Homo sapiens: one gene and its partners. The protein of the gene in region 3 purifies or fractionates together with the protein of the main gene of each other region. This does not show direct contact. Each region holds a gene or a part of one and is shown on either strand. Other genes may lie near its edges.

The links.
Region 1: the proteins of ATP9A (region 3) and CLEC2D purify together in Homo sapiens (co-immunoprecipitation; one large-scale study listed by IntAct). This does not show direct contact.
Region 2: the proteins of ATP9A (region 3) and ITFG1 fractionate together in Homo sapiens (co-fractionation; one large-scale study listed by BioGRID). This does not show direct contact.

The regions. Positions count from the first base shown.
Region 1 is NC_000012.12:9,696,883-9,700,210, forward strand, and holds the end of CLEC2D (C-type lectin domain family 2 member D), read left to right. Parts: 3' UTR 1-2,671; downstream 2,672-3,328. UniProt on the Homo sapiens protein: Receptor for KLRB1 that protects target cells against natural killer cell-mediated lysis. Inhibits osteoclast formation. Inhibits bone resorption. Modulates the release of interferon-gamma. Binds high molecular weight sulfated glycosaminoglycans.
Region 2 is NC_000016.10:47,450,983-47,454,639, reverse strand, and holds part of ITFG1 (T-cell immunomodulatory protein isoform 1 precursor), read left to right. Parts: intron 1-481; coding exon 482-627; intron 628-1,849; coding exon 1,850-1,907; intron 1,908-3,169; coding exon 3,170-3,244; intron 3,245-3,657. UniProt on the Homo sapiens protein: Modulator of T-cell function. Has a protective effect in graft versus host disease model.
Region 3 is NC_000020.11:51,621,754-51,625,410, reverse strand, and holds part of ATP9A (probable phospholipid-transporting ATPase IIA), read left to right. Parts: intron 1-48; coding exon 49-219; intron 220-3,238; coding exon 3,239-3,337; intron 3,338-3,657. UniProt on the Homo sapiens protein: Plays a role in regulating membrane trafficking of cargo proteins, namely endosome to plasma membrane recycling, probably acting through RAB5 and RAB11 activation. Also involved in endosome to trans-Golgi network retrograde transport.

The DNA of each region.
Region 1 (3,328 bases), on a different chromosome or scaffold from region 3:
CACCACCTCATAAAGATATCTGCTTTCCTGTTTATTATAACACATCTTTATTCATAATAGCCAAGATACGGAACTAACTGAAGTGACCATTAACAGATGAATGGATAAAGAAATTGTCATATATATAAAACACACACATTATATACATACATACATATATATATATATATAAAAAATAGAATATTATTCAGCCTTGTAAAAAGAAATCCTGTTATGTTGGGAACAAGCCCCCCAAAATCTGGCCATAAACTCACCCCAAAACTGGCCATAAACAAAATCTCTGCAGCACTGTGACATGTTAGTGATGGCCATAACACCCACGCTGGAAGGTTGTGGGTTTATGGGAATGAGGGCAAGGAACACCTGGCCTGCCCAGGGTGGAAAACCACTTAAAGGCGTTCTTAAGCTACAAACAATAGCATGAGCGATCTGTGCCTTAAGGACATGTTCCTGCTGCAGTTAACTAGCCCAATCTATTCCTTTAATTCGGCCCATCCCTTCATTTCCCATAAGGGATACTTTTAGTTAATTTAATATCTATAGAAACAATGCTAATGACTGGCTTGCTGTTAATAAATACATGGGTAAATCTCTGTTCTGGGCTCTCAGCTCTGAAGGCTGTGAGACCCCTGATTTCCCACTTCACACCTCTATATTTCTGTGTGTGTGTCTTTAGTTCCTCTGGCGCTGCTGGGTTAGGATCTACCCGACTGAGCTGGTCTCAGCACTGTTATTTGAAACAATGTAAATAAACCTATAGGGTTTATTATATATACTAAGTGAAATAAGCCAGACACAGAAAAAAAATGTTGCATGATCTCACTTATAGTGAAACTTAAAAAAAAAACCCAAATACATAGAAATAGAGTAGAATGGTGGTTACCAGAGATGAGGAAAATACAGAGACACAGGTCAAAAGATACAGAGTTGCAGTTACAAAGGGTGAGTATGTCTAGATATCTAACATACAGTATGAGGACTATAATAGTATTGCACTGTGTACTGAAAACTTGATGACAGATTTTAGATATTCTTACCACACAGACAAAAAGAAATGTAAGTATGTGAGATGAAGCTTATGTTAATTAGATTAAGTGTATGTACATAAAAACATCACATTATACACATCAAATATATACAATAAAAAAGCACATTGGGAGATACATGATAAATTTCTATCTGCAGTTGCTATTTGCATTTTTAAAGGATATTTTTATTTTTTAAATTTTTAGCTGACAACTGTATAATTATGGAATACAATGTGATGTTCTGATATATGTGTACACTATGGAATGATTAAATCAAACTAACATTTCATCATCTCACATACTTATCATTTTCTGTGGTGAGAACATTTGAAATTTATTCTCTTGACAATTTTGAAAGATCCAATACACTATTATTAACTATAGTCACTATGCTGTGCAATAGATCTCAAAAGCTTATTCCTCTTAACTGAAACCTACTACCCTGTGACATGTGGGGAACATCTCTCTATTCCCCAGCCCCAGTCCCTAAATGTTGAATACACAATGGGGAAAAAATAGTCTTCAATGAATGGTGGTGGGAAAATTGTATATCCACATGCAGAAGAATAAAATTGGACCCTTACCTCCTACCATATATAAAAACCAACTGAAAATCGATTAAAGACTTAAACTGTAAAACTACTAAAAGAAAATATAGGGAGAAAGCTTCACAACGTTGGTCTGGGCAATAATTTTTGGATTTGACCTCAAAAGTAGATGCAACCACAGTGAAAATAAACAAATGAAATTGCATAAAATAAAAAATGTTTCTGCACAGCAAAGGAAATAATTAATGGAGTAAAGAGACAACTTACAGATTGGGAGAATATATTTCCAAACTATTGTTGGGGCTCAGAAACGGATACCCTAACATATAGTGATTTGACAGGTGGAACTAAAGAAGACTCGAGGTCTCTCTGACCTCCTCCTCAACCTCTGTTTCTTAATCCTCTGTTTTCCCAGAGCACAGGAGGAAGTTCTCTGAAGTTCCTTTATCTGCTTTAAGTTCAGACTCACCAAATAAGAAAACAGTTAATTCTGGTGCCTTCCATGGGTTTTCATTAACTGAAGTCATATTGTAGGAAAAAGAATGAAGTCTCTTAACCCACCTGGATAGATTTTTCTCACAAACCATTGTCTTCTCTGCAAGCCCAGTAGACTTTGTCCCAGGCCATTTATGTGATCTTCACCCCATTAAGTTCTCCCCAAATTATTTACTCTTCCCCCAAAATCACCCACACTTCCCCATCTCCCTCTCCCCTAAGGACAAGGGTATATCACCATCTATACCCCATTGCTTGGTGGGGTGATCACTCTGATTCTCTGCATGCATTTTTATAGATTTGTTTGCCATTTATCCTATTAATCTGCATTCTGTCAATTGTGGCAAGTTATCAGCATATTTTTTAACTTTTAATTATTCTTAATGGAAAGACACTTCTGTATACACTGGAAATCTCAGGAAATTTCTTTTTTCCTTAAGCTTAATTGAAATGTTTACTTTTCAGTAAAATTTCAAGCTTGAGTAATGTTCATGCCTGCTTTTCATTGAAATAGAATGAAAAGGTTGCACAATATTATTTTCATGAAATTACTTCTAGTATAATTCTGAATAAACACTTTGAAAGGCAGTGAACTGTAAATATATTACAGCTATCTCTTATTCTTCAGGGTGGGTCTCAATTATGTAAAAGATGATTGGCTTTCTGTTTTAAGTAATAGTCATTTTGAAAACACTTTAAAACTGTCAAGTGAAGTGTGATGGCTAATTTTATATGTCAACTTGACTGAGATAAGGTATACTCAGCAGGGAAAGCATTATCTCTGGATGTGTCTATGAGGGCTTTTCTGAAAGAGATTGATGTTGGAATCACTAAGCTGTGTAAAGATGATCTACCTTCACCAATGTTGGCAGGCATCATCCAATCCGTGCAGGTCTTACCCAAACAGAGCAAAAAGTCAGGTAGGGTAAATTTATTCTCTTCTAAAGCTAGGGCATCCATTTCTTTCTACTCTCAGACATTGGAGTTCCCCAGTTTCCCAGACCTTTGGCCTTACACTGAGAATTATGCTTTGTTTTATTTAGGCATATTTTAATAATACTTCATGTATTGGTCAGGAAGACATTTCCTGGTTCTAAGGCTTTCGACTCAGACTAGATTACAACACTGGCTTTCCTGGTTCTCTAGCTTGCAGAAGAGAATACTAGGAAGCTTGTACTTCCTACATAGGTAAGAAGAGGAAACAATCTCTGGCTTAGAAACTATGTAACCAACCACAATTCACAAAGATTCCATAAT
Region 2 (3,657 bases), on a different chromosome or scaffold from region 3:
TCAGAAATAAAATGATTCTTTTAATTTTTACTGTAAATTTTGAATTTATGTTAAAATCCAAACTAAATATTTTATAAATAATATCTTTTAATTGAAAACATCCCAGTGATAATGCTTACTGCTTTGGCAATTATGAGCCTCCATTTGTTAGAAACACCATCCGAATGTCTTGGTGTCCTTGACAAAGGAACTATATAGAAGGGCTATACTAGCCATTGCTTGAACATAATAAACACGTTTTCTCTCGACATATTTCAGATTTGTCTTGTTTCTTGAGACTATTCTGCATTCATTCTGAACTCTTTTTTAGACCAAAGAGGTCTAAATACATGATGGATGAAAAGATAGGAAAGAGAAGGCAATCAGTCAGTTCTGTTAAGTTTTAAGTTTTTCATTGAAAATATTTTTGTGTGGTAGAAATACAGAATTGTCCTTTTCCATTACAACTTGTCTGATATTTGTAAATGCTTGTTTCTTTTAGGAATCACAGTGCATTGATAACAAGTGTAGTCCCTGGGGATTATGATGGAGATTCTCAAATGGATGTCCTTCTGACATATCTTCCCAAAAATTATGCCAAGAGTGAATTAGGAGCTGTTATCTTCTGGGGACAAAATCAAACATTAGGTGAATTTGTTTTAAAAATTTTTAATATTTATCATTGAATATGAAGGTAAATGTAACAAAATATTGTTCTGAAATCAGTTCAAAAATACTGTTCTTGGGTGTCAATAATTGTAAAACCTTTTTTCAAAGTTTATTTCCTGATTTTTCTTTTTCAACCCTGAACTGGGCAGGGATCACTTCTACTGACAAACTTCATTCTTACTAGCTTAAAGAGGACAGAGATTTATTAAAGGATTTTAGTGGCTCACAGAATCATTGAGATGGCTAAAGAATAAACTCTAGGTTGAGCTTTCAGGAGCAATCCCAATATCATCAAAAAAGCTACTGCCTCTTTCCCCTATCAGAAGTGGCTAGTTACACAACTGCTGCCAGAATGATGCTGTGCCTGCAGTGATTCTCACTAGCAAAATGAATGCTGCACCTGGTCTCTTGATACTCCCAAATTCAGTGAGCAGACACAGATAGAAATAGCAGAGAAACAGCCTTTACCTCATTCATGCCTTTAAGACTCACAGTGTATCTGATTGGCAAGGCTTAACTTTTATTCAGCATCTCAGATGCCACAATATCTGGAAAATGCTATTTTTGGTTTCTAGTCTCCTTAGCACAGGAAAGCACAAAAAAGTTGAAGTATGGTTCGAGAGTCAGTCTACCATACCTAGTCACAAATCATCAAGCCTTATCTGAAAAGCCAATTAGTTATACCTAAATAGGCAACTTTGTTCATGGAGCCAAATTTCAGTCATGTTTTCTGCACCATTTGGGAATGTAAACAGTAATCGCGATACATTATATTCATTAAGTCAATAAATATTTACAGAGGGAGTACCATGCACAAAGCTTGTATATAAGCATGTACATTTTAGAACCAGGAAGTTTTGCATATGTGGCCTTCTTTACACCAAAACCTTGTTAATTGTCAACCTCTCTAGCACTAAATTGTGTAAAGACAAAGACTCAGCTAGCAAATATTTAGATGCATACCTCAAAAGGAGGTTATTGTAATGCTAGTCTTCACTGTAGAATGTATTCTCCCAATATTTTGTCTTTGCAAGCTTGATGTTCATTTGAACTAGATTTATAGTATCTCATTAATGATAATAGTTGGAATAAATCAGAGATAAATCTAGAAAAGAGTAGAAGAATATTTTTTCCTAAGCATAGATATCAAAAGTAATATAAAATGCCTGCTAATTCATATATATATATATCTTTTTTGCAGATCCTAACAATATGACCATACTCAATAGGACTTTTCAAGATGAGCCACTAATTATGGAGTAAGTATGGGCTTGCTTCCTTTGAAACGATTTTAAACTTAAACATAAAATAAAATCTTCACATAGGAAACTACTTTGCTTAGTAATAAAAATACTAAATTCACTCAGAGGCCTGTACCTTTGATTATATTGTATTTATTTGCCATCAGATAGGACAAAGAAAAATGAAATTTATTATTTTGGAAAGTAGAAGAGATTTGTGTTTTTATTTCAGTCGCTTCAAATGTGTCCATTATGGATCTATGCTGTCATTACTGAAAGAATTAAGATACCTGTTTTTGAGTAAAACTGTTATATTTGATATTTAGGATACAGTTTCCTCTAGAAATTTAGAAAGATTCCTATATTAAGGAGAAATTTTTGTTCTTTTTATAATATAACTCCTGCTTTGTGTTATCATTTATATTCTCACTGTAGACTCATGTACCAGCATAATTGATTTAAATAATTGATGTAAATTTGGATTTGCAAATTTCTGACAGCGTATTTTGGTAGAGGTCGAGATCATTCCCGGGACTAGAGCAAAGTTTGGCCACATTCTTGTTTCCAGTACTGTCTTTCTTACAGTTATTAAAATCATACCCATACAGCAGTGTGTCAGTGGCCATTAGAAGTCTGAACTGTAAATCCATGGATTAATCTTCTTAACGGTGCCCCGCTAGATTTCTTTCATAGTTGTGTATTTTTTCATTGTTGTTAAAATATTCAATGGCCAGTATGAAGTTTTATACCAACTAGGATTATTTTTCTAGGTTATTTCTCCTAAGCCCATCTAAGTAAACAAGTTGGCTTAGGATTCTGAAGTAAGTTTCTAGGAATTAGTGCTGTATCCTTATCATTCAAGGGTAGTCTAGATAATGCAAAGATTACAGAGATACCCAAAATCTCACAAAACGAATTTATTTCTTGCTCTTACTATATGTCCAGTGTGGGTCAACAACAGGCTCTGCTCTGTGCTGTTGCTTAGAGTCAGGCCATCAGAGAGCCCACTGTCTTTGTAGCTAGTCCATCTGAATCACAATGCCTTCTCATTGCCATGGCAAGCCTGGAGAGGGCTGGAGGGGCTGGTAACAGAAATTATACACTTTGGCCTAAAAGTGACACATGTCACTTGTGCTGACATTTGACTTAATACTTATCACTAGATACTGGCGAGCATTGTAATGTCTACCACACTTCCCAAAAGTTACTGCTTCTTTTAAAGCTAAATTAGAAGTAAGAATTTAAAGAAATAGCTGCTTATTGTTTTAATTTTTTTTCAGTTTCAATGGTGATCTAATTCCTGATATTTTTGGTATCACAAATGAATCCAACCAGCCACAGATACTATTAGGAGGGTGAGTAAATATGGTTATAACTATGTAATTAATCGTATATATTGCTTCTACTTTAACCATTGGAGAAAAAATAGCTCATTGGAATCCTTGTTTTTAAAGATTTTTAAGTGGGCATTTGGTTAATATATATAAGCTTTCTCAAATAGTTTGGATTTGGCCTGCACCTGCTTTCCAAGGGCCAGCTTACTCCTTTTATCTCTTTGAAAAATTAGAGATTGAAACTTTACGGGTCCCCATTTAAATATTGGTTCATTAAATGTTTTTGAAATGGATAGATTTCACGTAAATAGGGAGGATACCTGCAGTCTTGAGTGGATCCTCCCTATCTTAGTACCTTAGTCATGTTAGCTGCTAGACTTTAATTGATAAGATTTGTTTCTTTCTGTCATTTGTTCAGTGAGCAGTCAATAACG
Region 3 (3,657 bases):
GGCCTCTCCTCACCCTAAGCAGTGACTGCATCTGCTGGTGTGTCCCAGGCCCGCTACGTCCAGGCCAAGCTGAGTGTGCACGACCGCTCCCTCAAAGTGGCCACGGTGATCGAGAGCCTGGAGATGGAGATGGAACTGCTGTGCCTGACGGGCGTGGAGGACCAGCTGCAGGCAGATGTGCGGCCCACGCTGGAGACCCTGAGGAATGCTGGCATCAAGGTAGGGCGGGCTGCCCGCAGGGAAGGGCACTCCAGGGCAATGCCAGTTATCCCTCAGCAGTGCAGGGAGATCACAGGGGGAAAGGGTGGGAGGAGCAGCAGAGGACACCAGGAGTGCCTTATCTGCAATGGGCCACAGGCACTGTTTCTGCCCCTCCAACTGTGATTTTTTTTTTTTTTTTTTTTTTGAGACGGGGTCTCGCTGTGTCGCCCAGGCTGGAGTGCAGTGGCATGATCTTGGTTAACTGCAACCTCTGCTTCCTGGATTCAAGCAATTCTTGTGCCTCATCCTCCCTAGTAGCTGGGATTACAGGCACGTACCACCACGCCTGGCTAATTTTTATATTTTTGTAGATAGAGGGTTTCACCATGTTGGCCAGGCTGGTTTTGAACTCCTGACCTCAGGTGATCTGTCTGTCTCAGTCTCCGAAGTGCTAGGATTACAGGTGTGAGCCACTGTGCCTGGCCCTCCAGCCCTGATTTTGGAAGACATCTTGTGTAGCGTTTGCCTTTACTGTACCGATGACTCCCCTGACTCCACTGGGCTCCCTGGTGCTCAAGGCCGAGCAGTGTCCAGCGTGCATGGCTGCTGATTAAATTCTAGTTGAGTGATCAGCACGCCGGTCTGTCTGCCGTGTGGCCAAGTGAGTGAGTGACCACCCAGCAGAGTGACCGTCAGCGCCATCACACTGTCGTATTAGCATTTTGCACTCTACCAGTGGCGACCCAAAAAAAAATACTAGGAGTTGAATCTGGAGGGGCCAGCAGAGGGCGCGTGAGGACCTGGTCCTCAGTGGACCAAGGGAGGTGTGAACAACCAAACTCATTGGCCTGGAGCTCCTGGAAACGTGTGCCTGCCACCGGCCTCCACTCAAAAGTGGCTCTCTGCTGCATCCTGGGGCCTGTCCTTTCAGCAGGGCCATGGCAGGAGGACAGGTTAGATGCCAGGCAACATTCAGGCCCACTGGGGACTCCCACCCCTGCGTGCCTGTTTCCTTGTAAACCCAATTCTGTCGCTTGCATTTGGCTCACAGGCCTGGTTCGTCATAAGGAAATCACCAACGGGACCTTGCTTCCGGAAGTCTGGCCGCTGGAGGCCCATTTCTGCTTCATCGTGGGGTCTGCAGTGGGGCCCTGGCCATTCCTAAGACTTCTGGAGTTTCCATTTTCTGCTTCCATCTTTGTCCTGGGGTTTTTCTCCTTCTCAAAACTATGTTAGCCCAAGACGAGATATTTTATTCACAGAGTGTGCATGTGACTTACCATTCTAGTTTCCTGTTAGATGACAGGAGGAGGGGAGTGCCTGGGATGGGGCAGGTTAGTTGGTAATTAAAGTCTAAGATACGATCTTGCACAGGAAATTTTCTTTTCTTTTCTTTCTTTCTTTCTTTTTTTTTTTTTTTTTGAGACAGAGTTTCACTCTGTCGCCCAGGCTGGAGTGCAGTGGTGCGATCTCGGTTCACTGCAACCTCCACTTCCTGGGTTCAAGAGATTCTCCTGCCTCAGCCTCCCAAGTAGCTGGGATTATAGGTATGTGCCACCATACCTGGATAATTTTGTATATTTAGATATTTAGTAGAGATGGGTTTTCTCCATGTTGGTCAGGCTGGTCTCGAACTCCTGACCTCAAGTGGTCCACCTGCCTCGGCCTCCCAAAGTGTTGGGATTATAGGCGTAAGCCACCGCGCCTGGCTGCACAGGATATTTTCTAAATCAGCCCCTTGTATGGATGTAGAAACTGAGGCTAAGTGAGGCGTCTCCATTCCCCAGGTTCTCACATTGGGAAGCAGCAGAGCCGGGACTGGAGCTGGGGTCTTGGACCCTTCCTGTAGTACCTTGCCTTCATCACAGCATGGGACATTAGCCATGTCGTGCACCTGATCGTTCTTTTCATGCTTTTCTGGAACTTGAACTTCCCAATTCCTTCCCCAGTGTTTGTTCTCTTACCTCAAACCCTGAGAACTATGACTAAACGAAGCTCACCAAAAAGAATATTATTTTTAGGACAGGCGGGATATTGAGGGAAAACAGACCCAGCTAGGGGAGAGGGCCCGGGAGGCTCAGCCCTGAGAGGTGCCCGGTGCCTTCCTTCTGCCCGTCTCACTGCCTGGGTTTCCATCCTACCTCTCCCTTTACTTCTTCTGTGACCCTTGGCAAATGACTGAAGCTCTTAGCGCTTCCATTTCCAGCCTCCAGAAGCTGTCATGAAGGTAACAGAGAGCTCAGCGTGGGTGCTGGGCACGTAGTGGACACTCAGGAGACAATTGTCATGATCTTCTTTCCTATACTTTCCCTCCTATCCAGATTTTCTTTGACCGATAGCCCCAAGACTGCTCCCAGCTGGGAGCAAAGAGAACAAAAGGGTTAATGAGGTAAAATCACAGAGCAGGAAGCACATTCCATGAGGACTCTAAAGACCCGGATTCTGGGCCTGGTTAGGACAAGAGGTAGCTGTGTGGTTTGGGGCAAGTCATCTACCCTCTCTGAGCCCACAGCAGAGAAATGCAGTGTGAGCTAATGCACGATACGGAAGAACCTGACTCATTTACGGTCAGCGTTTTATAAGCTGAGTTAAACCCCAGAAGGGTCTGTCTTGCTCATCCAACTACATAGAAAGTCCACAGCGTCAAAAATGAGTGTTTCCTGTAGGACAGGGAAGTGCCCCCTCACCTGTACAGCCTTTCCCTTCTTTTAGGATATTTATCACTTTAAGAAAAATCCTCAGAAGGGGAATTATGCGGTCCAAGGACCGAGCTTCATAGTACCTCCTGTAGTGTGTGGCCAAATGGCCCTTTCTAGAAGCATCTGCCAGTTTTTGCTGCTACCAGCAGTGGTTGCTTGGAGTCCCAGAGCCCTTCAGCCAGGGCGCTTGCTGTGTTGTGTTGGGGACAGCATGAGTCGGCAGGAGGTAAACGGAACATACCAAGTTCAGCTCCATGTTGTTGGAAACTCAGCTGTTGCAGATGACAGGCCGGCCTCAAAAACTAATAAACAGGACCTCTGTCACGCCATGATTTCAGGTTTGGATGCTGACAGGGGACAAGCTGGAGACAGCTACGTGCACAGCGAAGAATGCACATCTGGTGACCAGAAACCAAGACATCCACGTTTTTCGGCTGGTAAAGTGTCCTCTGCGTTAGGGCCATGTGGGGATGATGTTCGATTTGTCCTATAACCTCCTAACCTTGAGTGGGCCCCTTAAGAAGGGAGGGGCAGCATGTGAATTACCTAGGGTGGGGAGCATCAACCACGGTTGCTTTGGATGGGATGATTAATGACCCAGGCGCCGGCTGGAGAGTTTCTTCCAGTAGTGGTTTGGGAGTACCTCCTTCTAGCCCTGTGCTAATGCCATGCTCTTAACCTTTTGGGGGTCGTGGTCCCTTTGAGAAGCTGATGAAAGTCAGGCACTCCCCCCGAAAGATGCAGATCCACTCATACA